Linked DNA regions of Homo sapiens. The protein of the gene in region 3 purifies or fractionates together with the protein of the main gene of each other region. This does not show direct contact. Each region holds a gene or a part of one and is shown on either strand. Other genes may lie near its edges.

Region 1 (3,569 bases), on a different chromosome or scaffold from region 3:
ACTCTCTCCCACAGGGACCAGGGCAGGCAGGCCACCAGGTGCCAGGTAGAGACCCTGCAGCTTGGGGTGGACACAGGTCTCCACCAGGGTCACCTGTGCCCATCTGTGCCTACACACCGGCGTGGCCCCACGCAGGCACACTGCCAACACACACACATATATGTAAGGGCACACCCTGCAGTCAGGTATCCACTGACATGCGCATGATCACGTACCACCTGCCCCCTACTCACACATACACAGTACTGACACACAGTGGCATGCCCCACACATATACCCACACACATGCGCACACCAGCGTTCATCCGTGTGCCTTCATTCATTCAGCAGTTATTTACTGAGCACCTGTTATGTGCCAGGCAAGCATAGTGCCCAGCTTTGGGGCTACAGCAGTGAGCAAAAGGGACAAAAGCCTTGCCCACATGGAGCTGACATTCTAGGGAGCAGAGTCAGATGACGAGAGCAGCAAAATGCCTAGCATTCTAGAAGGTTCCAGATGGCGGGGACAGCCGGTGCAAAAGCCCTGAGGTACGAGCATGCCTGTGCATGTTCACACCTCAGCACACTTCACAGGTGTATATGCCAGGACACGCATGTACACAAACACTCACTGACCCGACGACAGGCCCAGGCCCACAGGCACAGCGTCACATGCATGGGTTAGGTTAGTGGCCACCCAGGAAGAGCTCCCACCTCCTCTTCTTCCCTCCAAGCCCCCTCCCCGCCTGCTGTCAGACCCTCCCTAAGCAGCTCCGGCTGGAGCCAGGCCCCACTGAGTGAACTCAGTGTCACAGGCACAACTTCCCTCCTCCAAGCTAGCAGGGCAGGGGATGGGGATCCCCTTGCCCCAGCCATAGAGGGAGAAGAGAGGGGAGTGAGGGAGGCCGGAGGGAGATAGGATCCTCAAACTCCACAAAGGAGAGACAGAGGCTGTGGTTGTGCACTCCGGTGGCTGCACGGACCCCGGTCAGCTGGAGGGAGAACTTCCCTCACTGATGCGACCTGGGGCACAGGGAGGACAGAATGTCCGGGAGCCCCCTCCATACTCTAGGCCGGCAGGGGGCTCCGGACCCAACTGTACTCCCCACCCAGGGGCTTTGCCCCTCCCCCCCTCACTCCAGGCCTTGGCACTCGTGGGATCTAACTGCTAACATCACCCAACCTTGACCATGTGAGTGAGGGCTCTGAGGTCTAGAGAGGTCAAGGAGGCTGCACGGACATCACCTGGCGTGGCCACCCGTGCTGGAGCCACCCCTCAGCATGTCAGGAGGAGAGGCCCCTTCCCTGCCCATCCCAGGCTGGCACAGAGCTGGGACCCAGGCTCCAGTCCCAGCTCTGTTGTGGCCACCTTGAGGGAGCCTGACACATCATCGCCTTCCTGTCCTGCCTCACAGTCCCCCTCAGAAATGGGAGGCCGTCACCCACGCTTCCACTGCACCCCAGGACTCCAGGAAGACAACGTGCAAAGAGCCTGGGTGCAGCAGATGAAGTCACAATACAGCCAAGCCCCTCCTCCTTGCTGGCAGCAAGAACAGAACCCAAATCTCAGAGGGGGAGGTGGGGCGGGCCCCACTGGATGTGCCAGGGACCAGGACCAGGCCACGCTGGGCCAGAGCTGTCATGGTTCAGGCCTTGCACACAGAACCACAGAACATGCTCAACAAGCCCCCTAAGCTTAGGGGCACTGACCTACCCTGGGGACCAGTAATCTTCAAGGTAGGGCGCAGAACACCTGCCATGGACCAATGGAGTGTTCACCAGGCCAGGCACAATCTTACCTAATCACCCCAGAAACCCTGGGACGGAGGCCCTGCCATTACAACTGCACTCCCGTTTTACAGATGAGAAAGCGGAGGCACAGCGGTGCCCTGATACGGCCAAGAGAAGCACTGTGGGTAAGCAGGAGAGCTAGGAACAGACCCCAGCTGCCCTCGCTGGCGAATGCACAGAACCATTACATCATCCTACCCCGAGACCCAACCAAGAGGTACCCACACCCCGTGGCAGCCGGGGCTGAAGGCCTGGAGATAGGAGAGGAGGCCCCACATACTCCAGCACCCAAGGCAATGAGAGAAACTGAGGCCCAGGAAGGTGCTAGGTCCGTGAAGAGGAAGGTGGGAAGGTAAGGCAGGCTGCCTGGGTAGGGCGGGGCCACCCAGTTAATGATTCAGTTAATAATTTCTGCTCCCAGTTCCTTATCAGGGAGGGCAAAGTCCAAGGGTGGCAGCCAATGAGCAGCTCTGCTGGGCTGTTACCCAGCAGCCTCTGCTGCCAGGGCCCTCCAGTCTGTAACCCCTTGGGAGTTGGTAATTGGGGAGTCAGGCCCCCAGGGAAAAGGCCATTCTGCCCTCAAATGCCCTCCTTGGCTCTACTTAAGACCCCAAGGAGCACTCTGTCCAGCCTTCCAGTCTCAGGAGAGTCCCTGAGGCCAAAGGGTTGGTAACTGCCTGTTTCTCACCCCTGCACTGACCCCAGGCCCTCCAGAGAGGTGCTTTCTGGGGTGCGTCCCCCACCCCCGCCGCCTCTGTTCACATACCCATTGTTGTCACCATTGACCCGGAGAGCACTTCCTGCCCACCCCCCACCCCTGCCCTGCACTGGGTGCTGGGGACATGGGGATGAGTCAGACCCCCTACTACCATTTCCTCCCCTGCCTGGGCTCAGGAAACCCTGTGCCTGGCCACCCCTCCCATCTACTTACTCCCTGGGTGCACCAGGGACAGACAGAGACAGGCTGACACGGGCCACAGTGCCACCCCCATCACGAAGCCCAGCTCAGCCCCCGGATTCCTGTCCAGGTGGGAGTCCTCTCTTCCAAATCATCAGGTAGTCTCTACCTGGGACCTCCTCCTGCCCTCTGGAGGCAGAGATGTTGGTCCCTGACAGGTAGCCCCCTCAACCCCAAGGTACTGGTGGCAGAGTAGGGAGCTGGGGGCTAGGTGTCCACTCTGGCTAACTCTGGCCAACTCCCTTCTCTCTGAGCCTCAGCCAGCGCCATTCCCCTCCCCTTACCCATCCCACAGCCGGGAAGGGTGGCTTTCAAACCAGTATCCTGGTGCTTCAGGGGCTGTGAGGAGCCCAGCCCCCATTATCCACTGTATCTGTCCTATCAGGAGACTATGAGTTTGTTTGATGGTTAAAAAATCACATTGGAAGCCCCTGCTCTGGTCCAACCCACTTACTTACCCTGGGAGGGGAATGAGGCCAGAGAAGGAAGTCACCAGTCCAGCCACCCATCAGCTTCAGAAGGGGCGAAATCCCAGGCCTCCCTCCTCCAGCCCTGGTGGGGCTCCAGAGGCCGGGCAGAGGCCCACTAAACTCCAAGTGGTCTTTCCAGCACCTGCTGGAAGGCGACTTCCCTCCATCCTCCAAGGCTCCCTGCACACCCACCTGCTTTCTGGGGGACACTGGTTGCTCACTCGAGCCTCATGTGCCCCTAGAATCTAGGGCCAGCAGGCACCCCTTCCAGGCTCGGCCATTCATACTCTAACATGTCTCTCCTTCCCAGGGCTGGGCAGTGAGCTTCTTCAGAGCTGAGGTTCTTCTCTGCCACCCCCTCCTGTCTTGCA
Region 2 (3,500 bases), on a different chromosome or scaffold from region 3:
CTAGAATTGAGAGCCTCACAATTAACATACCTTTTTGTTTTCGATGCTAGTGGCTGGGCAGGTTGCCCTGTCCTTTCTCTATTTCCCAGTCATTGACTGTAGATATGGGAAGAGTTTAGCTACCTTCATAGTGCTCCCAGGACTCATGGCCTTTCCTTCTTTAAGCTGTATTTCCCTGCCCAGAAAGAAACAGGAAGAAACCTTTTTTTATTTTTTTATTTTTTTTTAACCAAGCAAGGAGCAAATGGCCTCAGCCCAGATCTGTAAAAACAATGATAGAAATTGAATTCTGCCCCACATGTTGACAGTAGAGTTGGAACTGGATTCTTGGGATTACTTATCTAAAAAACTGGAGCATCAGGTCCATTTCTGTTCTGCTGGTTTGGAATCTTTTCCGTAATGCTATTTATTGCCAACAATGGCCTCTCTTTGTGTCCATATATGCCTTACACCGTGCTGACCTGGGTATCATCCATGTGCTCTGAAGCATCCAACTTTACTTTGCAGGTGCATCAATGTAGTCCTGTCCCTGAACTGAGTAACCGTGTTCCTGAAAAGTACACTAGGGAAATTCACCTGCTTGCTTGTCTTTGTATTGGCATGGCACTTGTGATTGCACCATGGAGCATGCTCAGAGCTATTAAATTGGTCTCCCATCTCCCACCAGGATATGAAAGGTCCATATGGGAGGCCACGTAATCACTTATTACAGTGGTTACATAATACACTGGCTCACTGCAGACTCTCTTGTTTTTTGATACAGTTTCGTGCTGGCTTCATTTGCCAATTGTGTTGTTTAGTTCGGAAGTAAGAGGGTCTTGAGATTGAGGGGTAGGGAGGGCTACACTGACTGATCCGTGGCTTAAGACAGGAGATTATCTCTGTACTCCAGTGGCATCTCCTTAGCCAAGATGTGAAATTAAAATCATAGTTCGCCTCATTTAAAAATTCTAATAAAGCACTCAAACTTTGAAAAGCTTTTACTTTTCCCTCCTACTAAAAGAAATGTATGTACCTCATAGCCCTGTGTCATTTAGTGTTCAGCACTTTTGGGAACATCAGTTGGTGAACTTTAAATTTTGCTGTCTACTCACTGGGCACGGTGGCTCACACCTGTAATCCCAGCACTTTGGGAGGCTGAGGCAGGTGGATCACCTGAGGTCAGGAGTTTGAGACCAGCCTGACCAACATGGTGAAACCCCGTCTCTACTAAAAATGCAGAAATTAGGTGGGCGCCTGTAATCCCAGCTACTTGGGAGGCTGAGGCGAGATAATCGCTTGAACCTGGGAGGCAGAGGTTGCAGTGAGCCGAGATTGCACCACTGTCGTCCAGCCTGGGTGATAAGAGTGAAACTCCATCTCAAAAAAAAAAAAAAAAAATTTTTTTTTTTTTTTTTGCTATATACTCTTAGTTTACATCCTCTCCCCCAATCTTCACACACAGAGCCAAAGAGCAGTTATATTCTTGGGATACCATGATACCTCTGGGAAAGGAATTATATTCCCAAGGAGAGGTCCCATTGGATAAGAACAATACCATGGGACTTGAGTCTGAATGCCAACTTACTATTCACACATCCTTCTTAAAAACGAACACACTGTTTCTTTTCCTGACCTAGAGCATTCTAAAGTTCTGTTCAAATAAATAAAGGGCAAAATAAAGTAGATTTAACCAAGTGCCAGGTGGAATTCAAAAAACACATTCTTCCAGATAAATTCTACCTTTATGGTATGGATTTGAAAGTACTTTGCAGGAAAACAGTCAGTACTCTTTAAAAAGGGACTGCAGGGCTGGGTGTAGTGGCTCACACCTGTAATCCCAGCACTTTGGGAGGCCAAGGCAGGTGGGTCACTTGAGGCCAGGAGTTTGAGACCAGCCTGACCAACATGGCAAAACCCCATCTCTACTAAAATACAAAAATTAGCTGGGCATGATGGTGCACTCCTGTAATCCCAGCTACTTGGTAGGCTGAAGCATGAGAATTGCTTAAACCTGGGAGGCAGAGGTTGCAGTAAGCCAAGATCATGCCACTGCACTCCAGCCTGGGCAACAGAGTAAGACTCTGTCTTAATAAATAAATAAGAAAATAAAACGGAACTGCAGTGCTAACAGTAATTTATACATTTTTAAATGTTCTGAGTATGTTTTGACTGGGCTAGTGTAACAATATACTACCCTGAAAGTGCAGTTTTGATTGTTGTTGGTGTCTTTGGGTCAGGAAAGTGAACTGTGCCAAGAAGTATTTTTCAGTGACATGAATGGATTCCTGTTAATGCAATTGACTGAGAGATTGTGCTTACGCTTTCTTAACTGACAAAAAGAGGCTTTGTCCAACATCAGAATTGTTGAAACTGGTGCTGTTTTCTGTTGCACTGGGATTCTGATGATCTGGGATTTTCCCTCCTTGGCACAGTAAACACCATGACTGTCTTTATTGAGAATGTCGTCACAGTCCTTTAGTGATAGATTAGTTAGACCCATGGTTGCAATACCTTTATCTCCCCAAAGAAAATAATCAAAAGAAAGCACAAAAGCTACCCTGTTTGCAGAATATTTCACTGACATTGATTTGTCATTAATTCTACCAGAGCTGACCTCATTCAGGCTTGATAGAAACAGGTTCCTATGTTTAGGGCAGATCCCTAGCCTCTCGCTCACAGTGAGTCTGCATGTCCTAGATTCTGGTTATTGCTGGAGCATCCATTAAAGTCTACCAAACTCAGGACAGAAGAAGATAGCAGTGGATTTGTAAAAATTTTTAGTTTATAAATTACAGTCATTGGGGAAACACTAGTAAGGTCATGTGATCTTTTGGACCAGGATTTTCTCTCTGTCTTCTCTCTGGGTGTGTGTGTGTGTATGTACAGAAGGGCTACCAGGAAGTGTCAACCATGTTAGATTTTCTGTAGTCTTCCAGAAACAGTGCAGCCCATACAACAGGAATCTTAATTTTCCTCACAGCAAATATAACAGGATGGAACAGTTAGTGTTTTGTTTTCACAAGTGTCCACCACTCCATCTGCCCTGCATGGAGAGGGCTCTCTCACTGCTAGATCTAGGCTGAGCCATCTGGAAGGATCAAAGGGTGTGGGAGTATCACCCCCTCTCAGGCTGCAGAAGGTCTCGAGGGTGGCGTCACAGCAGGATTTCCGCCTTCTGCATTGCACTGCACAGCCCCATGGAACATGAGGCACTTGAGGCCTTGCTTCTTGGAGCCTCTGGGGAGCAGAGTAGGTCACTGCCCTCTGGGAGTGTTTTGCAGTAGTTTTGTAAATGTGTTGCTACATAGTCAAGTTCCTTTGTGGCAAAGAAATATTTTGTTTTGATATTAGGAGCCAGCCCATGTAATGCCTCTCAGGCTTGCTTGCTTAGAAGAAAAAAGTCACCCTTTGTGGTTTTTAAGAAAAAAATTCTGTGCAGATCTGTTCCTCCTCCTGCTCCTTCCCTTTTCTCTACATACAGTGCTCATTGGAGGCTCCTGCTAAACCTTCTTAACCAG
Region 3 (2,823 bases):
CTTGGTCCTTTATTTTGTGATTTGCAAAATCAGCCACTTTGGAAAATTATTAAATAATTTTTTCCTGGATATGCTTACTTTGTTTTGACCTCCTTTGACACTTAAAAACCAGTGCTGGTTGCTACATAGAATAAAAATGCCTTTGGCCCATGGCATTCTTTGCATATGTGGCCTCTAGTGATGCCATTGGTTGCACTGGGGAGGTCTGGGAAGATAGCTGTTTCTGAAGACTTGCCGCTGTGGACACAGTTAACTAAAAACTCCAAGAGGAAGACATTTCTATAAATGCATGTGACAAAAAGCATGGAACACAACAGTAGGCGAAGAACTGTGGGAACTCGGAGGGAAGAGGTTTTGAATTTTACCACTAAGATAACTTATCTTTCATATATATAATTGAGTAGCAGTGATTTCATAAATTGCCAGCAGGTTTGCACTGGGCTTGACTGCTTTTTGCATGACAGCAACGGCATCTAGCACATTGGTAGGTAATTAGCAGGTACTTAATGAATGCTGAAAACGTCCTTTTGTGGTCTCCAATTTTGAGGGCACAAAACCCTAAATAACCAATGGCTGTCAACTAGAATGCTACTGTGACACGAAATTGCTTTCTTGATTCTCTAAAACAAGCATGTTCTTCCATGTCAATGTTTCACATTCTCAAGACTCCCTGGATCTGCTTACCAGAGTCTCACATTTTCCCTCCACAGGAAGCTGAAACCCCACGTAGTGTTCTTGAAGAAATTGGACTGACATAACTCTCCTCCCTTGTTGATGACTTCTTGTGGCATTTCACACACTGTAGATGGTCACTCCCTTCATGTCCATGTTAGCTCATGGTGTAAGATGATGTCTTGTCAGTATTACTGTTTTGCTAAGCCGCTTCATTCATGCCTACACAATTTTTTTTTAAAAGGGAACTTTAGTTAATTAAGTGATAAGGGACTTAAATATGAATTAGAATGGTGCAGAAAGAGATACCTTTTCTGGATATTTTAAAGTTTAAAGGTCAGTTTCTCTTAATCTGATTATGTGCACATATGAAAATGGCACATCATATACATGTAAAATCAGGCAGTATACATTTATTAATTACTGTATTTGACAAAGGAAACTCTTAAATTATAATGTGAAACCTGGTTTTATGAAACCAAAGACTAGTGCAGCATTTCAGCATATGTAAAAAAAAAAAAAAAGGGAATTGACATGTCACATATCAAATGAATGGAAACTTTGTTGAAACTTTAAAAAGCAAATTTACTCCAAAGACTTGTATTGGAAATTACATACCTTTTTTTTTTTTTTTTAAAGGACTACAGATTATTTTTAATGACTAAATTGGAGTGATACTTCTTACACTAAAAATTATTTCTTAGGCATTCTGAATCTGGGATGAGAAACAGGATTGTTTCACAATAGTAAGCACATAATTTTTAAGGCCAAGGCACATTTGACTCCTGAGATGAATTTTTTGTGGTCATAATCAAATACTTAGTTGTTTTTGATGCCCCAAAATAAAGTGAGAATGGTAATTTGCCAGGAATTCTTCATAACAGTATCTTACAAAAAACGTGTTGCTCTCTTCACAGTATTATGTGTAAAGTCATTGTTTAAAGCACGAATGTTCCCTCTGGGGTACTTGTTAAAGCTAAATTTATTTTGCTTCCCTCCACTTAGAAGTGCTGCACACTTTACAGCAGCTTCCTTTCTTTCCATGGCACTGCCTAGTTAACAGAAGTCTTATAAAAATTTAAAAAGACACATTTCTTACAAAAAAGAGTTGAATGAGGTAAAATGGCATTAGATGGCTCTATATTTTTTAAAGCTATGTAATTGTTCAGCGTCACTTTTCTAAGTACTTATACATATCTAAACATGTCTTCATGGTTTATATTTTCACTTATATATGCTGGGCTGGATTAAGCTTTGTTGTGATTGTGACCAACATTCAGGCCACGTGAGCACTGTCTTATCACATCGCCAATTAGTTGTAATAAACGTTCAACGTACAAACACTGGAGTGTGTTTTTATCTCTTTCCAAAAGTTTGTCAAACTATGCAGAGCTGCTGAAGGAAGAATTTCTCATTTTTTTTTCAGTAAAATGTTGAAAATTCCCCTCCATTTGAATATGGTGGTTGTTATAAGCACACACAAGATACATGGTGGAAGATCTAAGGAGTCTTCATGTACTTCATTAAAAAATAACATGGATTCCATACTGAGAGCCTATCTACACATTTATTTTCAATCAATAAATGCTGCTTTTAAAACCTTGATGCAGTTGACTTTTCTACTCTTTCTGAATGAACAACTTAGACTGTTACTCAAAAGGTATTTCAAATCAACTGGATTCCTCTTACCCCCTTGTGAACTGAAGGTGCTAGCACATGCAACAGAAAGGGACTAATACTTGCAGACTGTACTACCTAACCTATGCAACAAATCAAATCTATGGTAATCATGATAGTTAAGGGACCTCCTATTACTACAGATAGGAAATGTTACATTCTAAAACTGGGCTATTTAAGAAGGAGGCAGGAACTACCATCAAATTAAGTTGCTAGTCTACTGGAAAAAAAGACGTTTATAGGTTTAAAAAGCCTCCAACATGCAGCTAGCTATTCACTGAAAACAGGCCTGTGGGTTTCTGCTAGCAATGTATAGTTGGAATTTTTGAAACATAAATAGTAATCAGGCAATATATATTAAAAAAAACTAATAAATTTAAGTTCAAGATGGACATTTATCAGGATAATGAACCAGTCAGTGGTTTAAAAACTTCCTGCCCTTCTACCCTGCCTATTAACATTTGAGGGGAAAGT
Region 4 (3,569 bases), on a different chromosome or scaffold from region 3:
TCTAGTCTTGTTTTTTTTTTTTTAATCTAGTTATCCAGTCTATGTCTTTTAATGAGATATTTAATTCACTTACATTCAAGGTTATTATTAATAGGTGAGGACTTATCTTGTCATTTTATTGTTTTCTGGCTGTTTTCTATATCCTTTGTTCCTTACTTCCTCTTACTGTTTATTTTTGTGGTTGGGTAGTGTTCTGAAGTGATAAGGCTTGATTTCTTTCTCTTTTTCCTTTGTATATTGGCTCTACCAGTGAGTTTTATAGTGTCACATGTTTTTATAATGGCTGTTATGATCTTTTCACTTCCAGATGTAATACTCCCTTGAGCACTTCTTGTAAGACTGGTCTAGTGGTGATGGATTACCTTCGTTTTTGCTTGTCTGTGAAAGATTTTATTTCTCTTTCATTTCTGGAGGATATCTTTGCTGCATGTAATATTCTTGGTTGGCAGATTTTTTTTTTCTTTTAGTACTTTGAACATAAAATCCTATTCTCTCTTGGTTGGTAAGATTTCTGCTGAGAAATCTGCTATTAGTCTAATGGGAACTCCCTCATAGGTGATTTGATGCTTTTCTCTTGCTGGTTTCTTTTTGTCATTGTTGTTTGTTTGTTTTTGAGATGGAGTCTTGCTCTGTTGCCCAGGCTGGAGTGCAGTAGCGTGGTCTCAGCTCACTGCAACCTCCGCCTCCCAGGTTCAAGTGATTCTCCTGCCTCTGCCTCCTGAGTAGCTGGGATTACAGGCACCTGCCACCATGCCCAGCTAATTTTTTTGTATTTTTAGTAGAGACAGAGTTTCACCATGTTGGCCAGGCTGGTCTTGAACTCCTGACATCGTGATCTGCCAGCCTCGGCCTCCCAAAGTACTGGGATAACAGGCATGAGCCACCACATCCAGTCCTTCTCTTGCTGTTTTTAGAATTCTTTGTCTTTGACTTTTGATAATTTGACTCTAATGTGCCTAAGAGGGGTCCTGTTTGAATGGAATCTATTTGGGATTCTTTTAGCTTCCTGGATCTGGAAGCTCCCAAGACTTGGGAAGTTTTCAGCTACTATTTCATTCAATGTTTTCTGTACATTTGCCCTTCTTTTCTCTTTCTGGAACACCTACAGTGTGAATATTTGTTCACTTAATAGTGTCCCATGAATTCTGTAGGCTTTCTTCATTCCATTTTACTTTTTCTTCCCCCCATCTTTCTGTGTTATTTCACAAGATCTGTCTTCAAGTTCAAAAATTCAGCCACGCATGGTGGCTCACACCTGTAATCCTGGCACTTTGGGAGGCCAAGGCGGGCAGATCACTTGAGATTAGGAGTTCGATACCAACCTGGCTAACATGGTGAAACCCCATCTCTACCAAAAAATACAAAAATTAGCTGGATGTGATGGCATGCCCCTGTAGTCCCAGCTACTCAGGAGGACTGAGGAGGGAGAATCACTTGAGCCCAGGAGGTGGAGGTTGCAGTGAGCTGAGATAATGCCACTGCACTCCAGCCTGGGTGACAGAGTAAGAACCTGTCTCCAAAAAAATAAATAAATAAAATTCTGCTTGGTCTAGTCTTTTGGTAAAGCTCTAGCTTGTACTTATTTACTTATTCATTGAATTCTTCCACTCCAGGATACCTGTTTTGTTCTTTTTTATGGTATTTATCTTCTTGTTGAATTTCTTGTTCAAGTCATGAATTGTTTTCCTGATTTCATCAAATTGTCTAGCTCTATTATCTTGTATCTCACTGTAAGATTACTATTTTGAATTCTTTTTCTGTCATTTTGTATATTTCTCTATCATTGGGGTCTATTACACAGGAATTATTGTATTCCTTTGGAGGTGTCATGTTTCCTTGCTTTTTCATGTTCGATGTATCCCTATGTTGATGTCTATGCATCTGGTGGAATAATTGCCTCTTCCAATTTTATGTGGTAGGTTTTGCAGGGAAAGAAATATTTGTATGAATGGATCTTGGGGTGTTGGTTCAGTGGGATGCATTGGCTTTGGTTCCAGGTGGGCATAGTAGTGTAGTTTTTGTGTAGTTTCTTTAACTGTAATCCATGCCAGTGACATTTGTGAGTGTCTCAGTGGCCTCAGCTGAGAGGCTTTGTGGTGGTGGTGGCATGACTTTGCCAGGGATGTGTTCACCGGGCTATTTGTCAGGTCAGCGATGCATGCGTTCACATGGTGGGTTGTCCAACTTGGGGTCTCACTTGCTGGGGTTGGGGTTGGTGCCCTTACTCTGGCTGAGGGCACAGTTGCTTGGTTGCTTGGCCAGTCTGGGAGTATGCCTGCCAGAGGTGGCCTGTTGGGCTGTTTCTCAGGTTTGGGACATGGGCACACTGCTGCTCAGCTCTCCTGTGGGGAATGCCTGCTGGGGACAGCCTACAGGGCTATTTCTCAGGCATGAGAGGTGGGCATAAGTCTGCTTGATGGCCCCGGGGGCATGTCTGCCAGGAGTGGCCTGAGGAGTTGCTTCTCAGACCCGGGATATGAACACAAGGCTGCTCGGCTGGCCTAGGGGAGTTGCCGCTAGGGGTGACCCATGGGCTGTTTTTCAGGCCTGAGATATGGACACATGGCTACTTGGCTGGCCTGGGGGTATGTCTGCCAGGGGCAGCCTGCAGGGTTGTTTCTCAGGCCCTGATTGAGGTGTGGGGCCTTTGGGCAGGCCGGGGGCATGTCTGTAGGGGGCTGCACTGCCCGACTGTTTCATAGATCCGGGATGCAGGAGCGTAGTCACTCTGCTAGCCTGTCAGTTGCTCAGGGCCTTCTGCTTGCAGGAGGGTATGCAGCAGTTTGGTTGGCTCAAGAGTGGGTTTGCCCTGGGTGGGACTGTTTCTGTGGCTGAAAGTGCAGAGGGTGGTTTCCCTTCATTGCAGGACCAGAGTCACAGCCATTCCCGAGCCCTGGGTTGTGGAGTTCAGCCACCTGTGTAGCTTTGGTGGCATGAAAATGGAGTCCCAGTGCTGGAAAGGTGCAGTGGCTACTGGCCCCAAGAGGAAGGCACACTCCAGAGGGAGCTGTGGTCTAAAGATGGCGCCATGCTGTAGTAACTTGGCTCATGGAGTGGGTGGGGAGTGGGGAATGCTCCTAATCTGGGGCAGTGCAACTGTACGAATTCCCAGCAGCTCTCCAAACTGGGCTCAGAACTTGCAAGGACTGGGGGATCCTCCTGTAATAAGGACTGTAGGTGTTTGCAGTGGCAGTGGGGGCAGGTGGGAATCTCCCGCTTACCTTTTCCTCACAGGGAGAAGGCCTTCATATGTCCAGGCCTCCTCAGTCCTGGTGGAAGAGATGGGGCCACAGAGGCTGGGGGCCTTCATGCTGCCCTCCTAGACTTTCAGTCACCACAGGGGCCTCTCCACTTCCCCACTGCAGTTCAGCACTTTCCCACACTGAAGTCAAATCTTAGCTGTTTATTCATTGCCTTAGTCCTTTCCTAAGAAAGGTGGGTGGGGGGGGGGGGGAGCGGGTGAGCACCAGCTGACTCTAATCAGTCATCTTGCTGATGTCCCACCCATCATTTATTCTATGATTTTTCATGAATCTGTTGAGAGCTCTAAAGATGAGTCTAATGTTCAT
Region 5 (3,569 bases), on a different chromosome or scaffold from region 3:
AGAGGGACACATTCTGGTATCCACTCTTCATTCATGTTTATTGAGCATCTGGGCTGCCCCAGGTATCCTGGAAGCCGCCTGGGAAGGCGCAGTCTCCAGCCAGACTGACCGAGCAGCTGCTGTCCCCCACTGCAGGTCGCTGCGGAGGAGCTTTGCTGTCTGCTAGGCCAGGTCTTCCAGGTTGTTTACACGGAGTCCACCATCGACTTTCTGGACAGAGCGATATTTGATGGGGCCTCTACCCCGACCCACCACCTGTCCCTGCACAGCGGTATGTTGAGTGAGAGTGGGCAGCGGGTGGGAGCAGGGACAGGAGGGGCTACTGCAGTGGCCCCCAGCTCCCCATGAGTTACTCCTGGAATAGCGCAGTTACTGCCGTGACATGGTGGCCTTTTGTTTCCAGACTTTGCTGTTCACATTAGCCCATAGGGTTTCATGAAGGCAGAAGTGTCACCTGTCCTTGAGAGAGTTGCACCAGGTCAGCGCTATGGCTTCCTGGAATAAATTTGGGGTCTGTGAACACTTTTTTGGAACCACTTGTGGCTAAAGTCACTTCACTTAACTCGGAACAAAGAGCTTGGAGAAGGCTCCTAGCACTGGGGCCTGTGATGGAATTGGGGAGGCTGAGAGTGGGTCTGGGGAGCCTCCTTTTCAGTATGCCCAGACTATGGCTGCTCTTAATGTGAAACTCCTTCCAGGACCATGGCCAGACCCATGGGAAGCTGCTCAGGCTGCCCTGGGAGGCCAGCTGGCAGTGGTGGAGCAGTGGCAGATGGGGAAGAATGGAAGGTACCCCAGAGCTGTCTCTTCCTGCATGGCCCACACAGCATTTTCAGGAGTCTGTTAGTCCATTGAAAACACTTCATCAGCAAGCTCACTTGAGTTAAGTCTTCAAAAACATCATCTGTTTTTCAGATGTATTACTTATTGAGGATTAATGGGTTATATAAATTGAGGTGCATAAAAAGCTGTTGGAGGCTGGGTGTGGTGGCTCATGCCTGTAATCCCAGCACTTTGGGAGGCTGAGGCGGGCGGATCACCTGAGGTCGGGAGTTCAAGACCAGCCTGACCAACATGGAGAAACCCTGTCTCTACTAAAAAATACCAAGAAAAAAAAAAAGGCTGTTGGAAACAGTGCGGCTTGTTGAGTACAATTTCTTCTTTTTACGGAGATAAGTCCCAGCCCTCTGCCCTTTCCCCAGTAACTCGCACATCTCAGTGAAGAGAGTAAATGGTGGAGAAGCCTGTGCTGGTGTGAGGGCTGCTCCTCAGTGCCTCCTTCTTCCCTTTCTTGCTGCTGGTGCCAGAGCCCTTTGTGGGCACTACACGCCTTGTGTTGGCCCAGCAGCTGCAGAGAGACAGCTGCTGAGCTCTCAGGCATCCTCTCTATCTCATTTAGTCCTCGGTGGCCCAGCGAGATAGGTGCAATCTTCATCCCCATTTTAGAGATGGGGAAGTGGAGGCTTAGAAGTCAACAGCTTATCCAGAGGAATGTACCATATGAGTAGCAGATGATTTATCGAGCTGTAATTAAACATTCAGTTTTAGTGCGACTGGTTTGGCCCTTGTGCTTTAAAATTCCCAAAGGGCCTTTTTTTCTTTAATAATTTTTTTTTTACTGAGAAGTACACAAGTCATACATGTACAGTTGAATGAATTTTCATAAAGTAAACACATCATGTAACACCACTACTGGGGGTTGCTGAAGTGGGCTTCTTCCCCTGCCAGCCTTTCCCAAGACCTCCCCGTGGGATCCACACACAGATGTGCACACGTTACGCACATGCATGCATTCTCTGCTTATTTCTGCCTTGGAGTTTTGCTTGCTGTGTTCTCTCTACTACAGCTATGCCAAAACATAGCAGCATAAACAGCAGAAATATATTCTCTTATAATTCTATACGTTAAGAGTCCATTGTGGGTCCCACTGGGCTAAAGTTGAGGTGTCCACAGGGCTGGTTCCTTCTGGAGGCTCCAGAGAAGAAGCCATTTCCTTGTCTTTCCAGCTCCTAAAGGCGGCTGCATGCCTTGGCTCATGGCCCTTCCTCTGTCTTCACAGCCAGCCACGTGACCTCTTCCACAGTCACATCTTCCTTTGACTGTCAGCTTCCTCTGCATTTCAGGACTCTTGCAATCACATTGAGCCCACCCAAATTCTCCAGGGTCATCTCCCTATTTCAAGGTCAGCTGATAAGCATCCTTTACTCCCCTTTGAAATTGGTAACATATTCACCAATTCCAGGGATTAGGATGTGGACGTCTTTGGGGGGTCATTATTCTGCCCTCCATACTTACCTTGTTCCTAGTGCCAGAAATGTCCCTTTTATCTCTCAGCCTCTCCCTCTGCTTCATTTAAAATCTTACCCTCTCTGCAACACTCACCTGCCTCGCTCACAAAGCTTTCACTCACTGTCTGTGCTGGTGTGAAATGTGCCTTCCTCAGGTTTGAAATAGCAAATTACAGTCTGTGTCACACGGACCTAATGTCATTTGTTGAATGTAGCTGCTCAGTGCCAGACCCTTTGCTGGTCTGAGGGTCTTGGGAATCCTGTGGCTTCACTGGGTTCAGATGGGGAGTCAGACTGCCCGGCTCTGACTGTGGTTTCTGCTGTGTGACCTGGGCCAAGTTGTGTAACTCTCTGACTTACTTCCTAATCTACAAGTGAAGACAGGGGTGATATATGCCTGGGTTAAAGGAGACAAAGCCCCAGTAACCCTGCCTGGCACATGAGTGATACCTCAAAGACAGCTTTTGCTGGCTCTGGCCATGGGTGAATGTGTACTTCAGCCCAGCGTGCAGCAGGATTTGCATTTGCCAGGATCCCCAGGAGGGGTGTATGTGGGCTCAAGTCTGGGAAGCCCTGCCCTGAGGCACACAGCACATTCCAGAGTGCGGGCAGCTTGATGAAGGACAGCAGGGTCCCTGAAGACCAGGGCTGCCGCTGTCTCCTGTAAATACAGCAGTGGGCTGGACTCAAAATGCCTCCCCACTATGTCCCTGAAAGTCATCTTAGTTTTCTGCATCTTCCTTACAGATGACTCTTCTACAAAAGTGGACATTAAGGAGACCTACGAGGTGGAAGCCAGCACTTTGTGAGTGCACATGCCACCAAGCCCTGCGGTGGGACACGCACCAAATGCGTTGTCTGGTGTTGTCCAGGCTGCAGCCAGTCAGCTCCCCCATCTCAGCTCACCCTCGCTAAGCCATCCCCAGACCCACTGTACCCAGCTTAGTGAATGGCTGAGGCCTGGCTCGCCGCCCTCTCCTCGTAGACTTCTAGAGCCCTTGCTGTCCCTCTTGTCTCTCCCTGCCTACCTTCCCATGGCCTCCCAAGAGTGAGCTTGTAATAGGCATGTTGGATGGAGCTGTTCCCCTGCCCGAGCCTGCCGAGGCGCTGGCCTTCCAGCCCATCTCTGCCACCACCTGGGGCTCTGTAGTAGTTCACCCACTCGCGCTCTCCATTCCTGCCACCTCCCCAACCCTGGCTCCTTCCCCTGCCCAACAATGCTGCCCACTGCCTTGACCTGTGTACTCCCTCTCTTCACTCAGAGCCCAACTCAGAGCCATG
Region 6 (3,569 bases), on a different chromosome or scaffold from region 3:
CCATGAGTTAATTTACCAGTGATATCTTTGGTTCTAGGTGTCAGTAATTAACACTGTGGATACCTCCCATGAGGACATGATTGTAAGTATTAATATCACCCTCCCTGGAGGGGTGTGGACATGGGCATTTTTGTGGGAGGGAAGCAATTTGGGGTTTTCATTACCCCTTTCTGTTGATCATTCATGGATCCAGGGTGGCTTTGCAGTGGTTGCCTATCAGCCTGTAATCTCGGGGTATGGCAGGCTCCCTAGCAGTGCCCTCTGAGTTGTCAGGACTGTGGCAGTCTAATCACTCTCTGCTGGGAGGAACCTGGGAATAATTTGTAGTTCTAGGCTGTCAGTCTTCCAGCCAATACAATAACCTGCTCTCGGATGAAGGCTGAGTGGGTACGGAGGCTTGACAATAGTCTTCCCACCTGTCTTCCTCCTGCTGTCACTTCTTAGCCCCACTGGAAAGGGGGGTGAAAAGAAGAGAGTGTAGAAAGATGACTCAATACAAAGGCAGAGGGCAGCCACAGTGAAAGCCCCAGGCAGAGCCCAGTCAAACCACCAAGACAATAGGCCAGACAAGGCCCTTTGAACCAGAAGTCCACACTCAGGGCATTTCCTGAGAGGTAAACACAAGGCTCAGTATAAGAGGACAGGGCTGCAGGAGAAGGTCCAGAGGTTAAAGTCTACCGCAGGAAAAACACAGACTCTGCTTCATTCAGGGCCAAGCAGCCTTTGAGCAAGACCCAGGACAGCTGGCTGACAGTGTTTCATGTCAGGGTTCTTGCCCTCACAACCTGTCCACCAACAGTTGCTTTTGGGTTTCTGAGAGGTTGTCTGGTCCCAGAGTTGTATATGTTCTCTGGATTCAGTCATGAGTGGTCTAGCTGTAAGACCACACCTCCTTGGAGATAGCATGGAATCATGGGCAGGAAGACCCAGTCTGAGACTCCCTAGCCAATATCTTAACTTTTCTGAGCCAGCCTCAATTTACTTACGGGAAAAATAATGGATATGCTACCTACTCGTATGAGTTTGGTTTGAGAACTAGATGAGGCCAAGTAGTAATGACAAACATTTGCATGCTCACTGAGTGTCAGGCCCCATGCTAAGTACTTTTCTTTTTTTTTTTTTTTTTTTTTGAGATGGAGTTTCGCTCTTGTAGCCCAGGCTGGCATGCAGTGGCGTGATCTCAGCTCACCGCAACCTACGCCTCCCGGGTTCAAGTAATTCTCCTGCCCCAGACTCCCGAGTAGCTGGGATTACAGGCGTGCGCCACCACTCCCAGCTAATTTTGTATTTTTAGTAGAGGCAAGTTTTCTCCATGTTGGTCAGGCTAGTCTCGAACTCCCGACCTCAGGTGATCCGCCCGCCTCAGCTTCCCAAAGTGCTGGGATTACAGGCGTGAGTTTTCATTCAATATCTTGTTTAACCTTCATAACAACTGTTGAGACAGATGCTATCTTTAGCCTTATTTAAAGATAAGGGAACTAAGGCCCATAGGATGTTGGTAAATAATAAAGATAAGGAAACTGAAGCTCAAGGAGATGAAGTGTTTTCAAAGTTTGCACAGCAGGTAAACTAAGGAGATAGGATTTAGATCTGAAAGGTACTATGTCCTGCCTCCTTCCACTGAGAAGCATGAGAAGTGCTTCAGAAACACTCCTCTACTGCCTGCCCTCCAAGAAACCAAGGCCTGATACAGTGGAGGGAGTTCCCAAAGAAAAATCAGGATGTGTTCCTTGCGTAGGGAGGTGAGAATTCCCATCTGAGCCAGACAGAATGAGTGCCTTTGAATGGGCATAATTGCCCCTGGTGGCCATGGGAGTGCAGCTGATAGTCCTGAAACTCCCAGGGTGGGACAGCTGGGGAAAGGGACATCCATTGGAATAGGCAGGGCCAGCAAGCAGAAGGGACCAGGGTGTTCAGTGGTGCAGGAGGCATGGTGCCTCAGAGACCATCACCCTGCGGACAAGGATCTGCAGGTAGGGGCCAGGCCTAGTTCTGCATGCTCAGTCAGCATCAAGGAATTCGGTTCACAAGTGGTGAGAGCAGCGACACTTAAGGCATTGTGTTCCTTGGGTGGAAAGTCTGGGAAGCTCTGGGCACACTACTAGGGAAAAGGTCGAGCAGAAGCCCCAAAACAAAGGTCCACAAAGGATCCAGGGCCAGGGCTGGAAAGAGCCCAAATATCTGAATGGAACCCTGTGTGCAGGCCAGAGCTGCATCACAGAAGACCTGACTGGGGACTCCAGGCAGTCAGAGGCCCACTCCTTTGGCCTGCTCCCATGCATTAGCATCAGGTGCTAGGGCTGAGCTGAACCCAGGGGTATTCCCCTTTAGCCCACAGAGCCTAAGAACTGAATAGGGCCTGAGAGGATGGAGGAAGAAGAGGGCAGCTAGGCCAACTTTTTTTCTCCCATACCCACCCTGCGGAACAGGAATGGAAGAGCCCTTCCCTGAGGTATGTAAAGGGTCTGTGACACCAGCTGGGCATGGCTTGCTTTGTCCATTTCAGAGAGACACTGCCCATAGGTGAAGTGAGAATGTCCACATGCTAGCTTCCTGCCTGAGGGTGATGATACTTTGAGATCAGATTGATTTCAGGGAGATTCTGGTCCAAACTAGACTCTGTGTAGTGACAGCCCTCACCCCACCCACCCACCCACCCAGCCTGCAGGCTTCCCGAGCTGTCCTCCCTTTGCAGCACGACGCCCAGATGGACTACTATGGCACCCGCCTGGCAACCTGCTCATCAGACAGGTCCGTCAAAATCTTTGATGTGCGCAATGGAGGGCAGATCCTTATCGCCGACCTCAGGGGGTAAGTGCTGGCGAGCCCAGGGAAGGGCTCCAGGAATGGTGTGGGTTCTCAGGCCCTGCTTCAAGCGTGGGAGCAAAGCATGGGAGCCCAGATTCAGAGCAACCCCAAAGCACATTTAGCGGAGAGGACGCTGGGATCCCAGCCAGCCTGGCTGTCCTCAGCGGACGTCCCCAGGGATGATGCTGTTAAGGGCACAGGTGGATACAGGTGTGAATCTCAGCTCTGCCACTTTATGTGTACCCACCAGAAGACCTTGGGCAAGTGACTCAGTTTCTCTCTCAGAGCCTTCATCTGCTCATCCTCAAAATTGGGCCAATGCTACCTCCTATCCAGCTAGTGTATGCAAGGCCCTGACACAGGGCCCAGGACACAGTAAGTCTTTAGTGCAGGCAGCTACTGCTACTTTTAAAAGTGGTAAACAGTACCATTTCGTTCAAGTTTAGCCAGTATGACCTAAAGTGTCACAAAAGCATCACCGTAAGAATAATGTAAGAATGCTATCATTTTATAAATCCCATTGTTCTGCCTATATGCCCGTGGCACGTGTTCAGTGATTATTTACAAATGTTTGACCTGCCCTGCTCCCTACTGAGATTCTTGAGGAAGTCCTGGCTCATTTTTATGGCCACATCTCTACTGCTTTCCCTCAGCTCACTGCCTTTCACGTATTTGTGGGTTTGCCTGGGTGCCGTGGATCTCCAAGGGTTCTGTGAATAGAGTTCAGGGGTTGATGAATTGGGACAGGGGGAAAAAAATGC
Region 7 (2,479 bases), on a different chromosome or scaffold from region 3:
TCTTAATGCCCATAATCTTATGAACTGAAAATTCAGAAGGAAAAGAACAAATAGAAAGCTACTAATTCAATATTTGTTTTTCATGGTACGGTTTTCATGTTTCCTTGGAAACATATTTTGCAAATATAACAATAATAGTAATAACACAATTTTGTCATTTAAAAAATTACCCATTCATTTTTCAAACTTGACTGTTAGTGGAGGGGTATATGTGTGTCTGTGTTTCCACTTATGTAATGGCTGTCTCATTATTTAAATTAATTTATAATTATTTTTCAGTGTACAGAGTGATTAGCGGCTTGTAATGCTGTTACAATGTAGCATTGTAATGTAAGATGAAGAAAAATTAGGATTTAGGTGGGATTTTTAAAAATTTATCAATTCAGCTACTTTTTAAAAGAAGTCCTATTCCAATTGGACCTTTAAAATTTTTATTTTGGTAATATTTCAACTTAAGATGTATTAAAACTAGCAATTCTGTGGTAATCAGTGTACTAGTCAACATTAAAATGCTATTTTGGGTTGTCTTCTTTTGGTAACATATTCTGACACTAAGCAACATGTTTTACAATTTAGTGGGATGAACCTACAAATTCATAAATGCTTCTCTTTATTTTGAAGGAAAAAGATACTTGTCTGTATACGACATAATTGTTTTACTCTTCAGAATGTGAAAGTTATATTAATCACTAAACACTTTAAGAAGTGGTTCTGGTAGGATATCAGTAGTCAGACTTAATTGAAAAACTGTCAGCGTCTGTTTTGTATATAGGGATTAAAGAGGATAACTTTATTTTTTCCTTTGGAAAGAATAATTCTTTTGGAATTTTGGAATTTTGATTTTCTTAGATGACTTTTTAGCAATTTAATGATAATAATTTCTATTTTTCTTCCAAAACTATGGCATGTTATAGTAGATCTTACTATTAAAGATCTTTTATATTTTAAACTGTTTTTTTCCTATTCTGCTTTTTGCTGCTCTCAAAGACTGTGATTGATGAACATCACCAAACTTTTTTTGTGGCAAACTGCTTATTTTATAAGTAGCTTTATATAAGAAAACTTCTTAGAAAACTATGTGGCTGGTTGGTTCCATTTAGAAACTCTTAACAGGTATGGCTTTCATTCCTCCAGTTGTTTGCTTTTATAGACTTGGAGCAAAAAATATAGCAAAAAGTAATCATATCTGGCTAGATAGCCATTTCTCTCAGATTCATTGCTATAAAAATGAATCTACTGAGGCATAAAAATATGAAACATATTTAATTCATCTCTTTTGTCAGTTTTTCTGGGACTCCAATAGCATTTCAGTGTTATAGAGAGTGACAGTGACTTGAATGCATGTATATGCACATAGTCAATTCAGAGCGTAATAACTAAAAATTCAGAATGACTTGTTTTTTGAAAGTACTTGGAAATTGTGCTGCTACTTAAATATTGAAGGAATTCAGAAAGTTGTGTATTTATCTTAAAATGTTCCTTCTCACTTATTCTACTGGAATTGACCATGAAAAAGAAAATATTATGCCTTATTTATATCTAATTATTGACTGTGCAAACTGTGACTCAGTGGATATTTGTATGCCCCCCAAAAACATTTTAAAGCTGAGCAATTTTTAATAAAGATGTATAAATAATTTTGATTATTCTCATTGTAGTTAAGTTACTGTTAGTTTGGTGCAATACATTCTTTCCTTCCTCATCCTTTTAAAATTAAATATATAAGATGTATGTTTTGTTTTATTACATTAAGTGCTATTTTTAAAAAATTCATTGTGTGTATATGAGCTAATACTTGATTTGTTTCTGTATAGCATGATTAAAGATAATTGAAAATTTTGCACTTATTTTAGGCCCTTGGAAATTTGTATTCTAATACTTTTTAAGAATGTCCATTTATTTTGTACATAATAAATTAGCTTTGTATATGAAAATGGGTTTGAATCAAATAAAAAAAGTGATGTTACTTTCTTCAGTTGATTTGTAATTCTCAGTTCATAGAGTCTGATTAGAACTTATCCTTGGCTAAGTTATTTGGGTAGACAAGAGATTGAATACAGTATTTGTTAATTAGAAAATTGATCAATGTTTCTTTCTCATATGAGCAGAATTTCTTCTGTAGTCCTGTGTGCACAAGATACATGTCAATTGACTATTTTTTGTCATATGTAACAACAGATATTCTGCCTTTCACTTTAGAGCTACCTCAAAAACATTGTTACAGGCTAGGCACAGTGGCTCATGCCTGTAATCATAGCACTTTGGGAGACCAAGGCTGGAGAATAGCTTGAGCCCAGGAGTTCAAGACCAGTCTGGGCAATATAAAGAGACCCTGTCTCTAAAAAAATTTAAAAATTAGCCAGGCATTGTGGCATGCACCTGTAGTTCTAGCTTGAGCCCAGCAGGTGGAGGCTACACTGAGCCAAGATCACACCACTGCACTCCAACCTGGGTAACAGAGAAATACCCTGTCTCAAAA

The links.
Region 1: the proteins of AP1S2 (region 3) and MYRF fractionate together in Homo sapiens (co-fractionation; one large-scale study listed by BioGRID). This does not show direct contact.
Region 2: the proteins of AP1S2 (region 3) and NUDT3 purify together in Homo sapiens (affinity purification with mass spectrometry; one large-scale study listed by BioGRID and IntAct). This does not show direct contact.
Region 4: the proteins of AP1S2 (region 3) and STX8 purify together in Homo sapiens (affinity purification with mass spectrometry; 2 studies listed by BioGRID and IntAct, with this or other methods). This does not show direct contact.
Region 5: the proteins of AP1S2 (region 3) and CCM2 purify together in Homo sapiens (affinity purification with mass spectrometry; 2 studies listed by BioGRID and IntAct, with this or other methods). This does not show direct contact.
Region 6: the proteins of AP1S2 (region 3) and SEC13 purify together in Homo sapiens (affinity purification with mass spectrometry; one large-scale study listed by BioGRID and IntAct). This does not show direct contact.
Region 7: the proteins of AP1S2 (region 3) and NBEAL1 purify together in Homo sapiens (affinity purification with mass spectrometry; one large-scale study listed by BioGRID and IntAct). This does not show direct contact.

The regions. Positions count from the first base shown.
Region 1 is NC_000011.10:61,755,636-61,759,204, reverse strand, and holds part of MYRF (myelin regulatory factor isoform 2 precursor), read right to left. Parts: exon of another isoform or gene 3,509-3,569; intron 2,123-3,508; exon of another isoform or gene 1,842-2,122; intron 1,717-1,841; exon of another isoform or gene 1,541-1,716; intron 1-1,540.
Region 2 is NC_000006.12:34,284,670-34,288,169, reverse strand, and holds part of NUDT3 (diphosphoinositol polyphosphate phosphohydrolase 1), read left to right. Parts: 3' UTR 1-3,500. UniProt on the Homo sapiens protein: Cleaves a beta-phosphate from the diphosphate groups in PP-InsP5 (diphosphoinositol pentakisphosphate) and [PP]2-InsP4 (bisdiphosphoinositol tetrakisphosphate), suggesting that it may play a role in signal transduction.
Region 3 is NC_000023.11:15,825,260-15,828,082, reverse strand, and holds the end of AP1S2 (AP-1 complex subunit sigma-2), read left to right. Parts: intron 1-710; coding exon 711-758; 3' UTR 759-2,277; downstream 2,278-2,823. UniProt on the Homo sapiens protein: Subunit of clathrin-associated adaptor protein complex 1 that plays a role in protein sorting in the late-Golgi/trans-Golgi network (TGN) and/or endosomes.
Region 4 is NC_000017.11:9,506,293-9,509,861, reverse strand, and holds part of STX8 (syntaxin-8), read left to right. Parts: intron 1-3,569. UniProt on the Homo sapiens protein: Vesicle trafficking protein that functions in the early secretory pathway, possibly by mediating retrograde transport from cis-Golgi membranes to the ER.
Region 5 is NC_000007.14:45,069,691-45,073,259, forward strand, and holds part of CCM2 (cerebral cavernous malformations 2 protein), read left to right. Parts: intron 1-135; coding exon 136-271; intron 272-698; coding exon of another isoform or gene 699-847; exon of another isoform or gene 848-2,059; coding exon of another isoform or gene 2,060-2,182; intron 2,183-3,035; coding exon 3,036-3,093; intron 3,094-3,569. UniProt on the Homo sapiens protein: Component of the CCM signaling pathway which is a crucial regulator of heart and vessel formation and integrity. May act through the stabilization of endothelial cell junctions. May function as a scaffold protein for MAP2K3-MAP3K3 signaling.
Region 6 is NC_000003.12:10,314,563-10,318,131, reverse strand, and holds part of SEC13 (protein SEC13 homolog), read left to right. Parts: intron 1-37; coding exon 38-82; intron 83-2,695; coding exon 2,696-2,811; intron 2,812-3,569. UniProt on the Homo sapiens protein: Functions as a component of the nuclear pore complex (NPC) and the COPII coat. At the endoplasmic reticulum, SEC13 is involved in the biogenesis of COPII-coated vesicles.
Region 7 is NC_000002.12:203,223,220-203,225,698, forward strand, and holds the end of NBEAL1 (neurobeachin-like protein 1), read left to right. Parts: 3' UTR 1-1,975; downstream 1,976-2,479.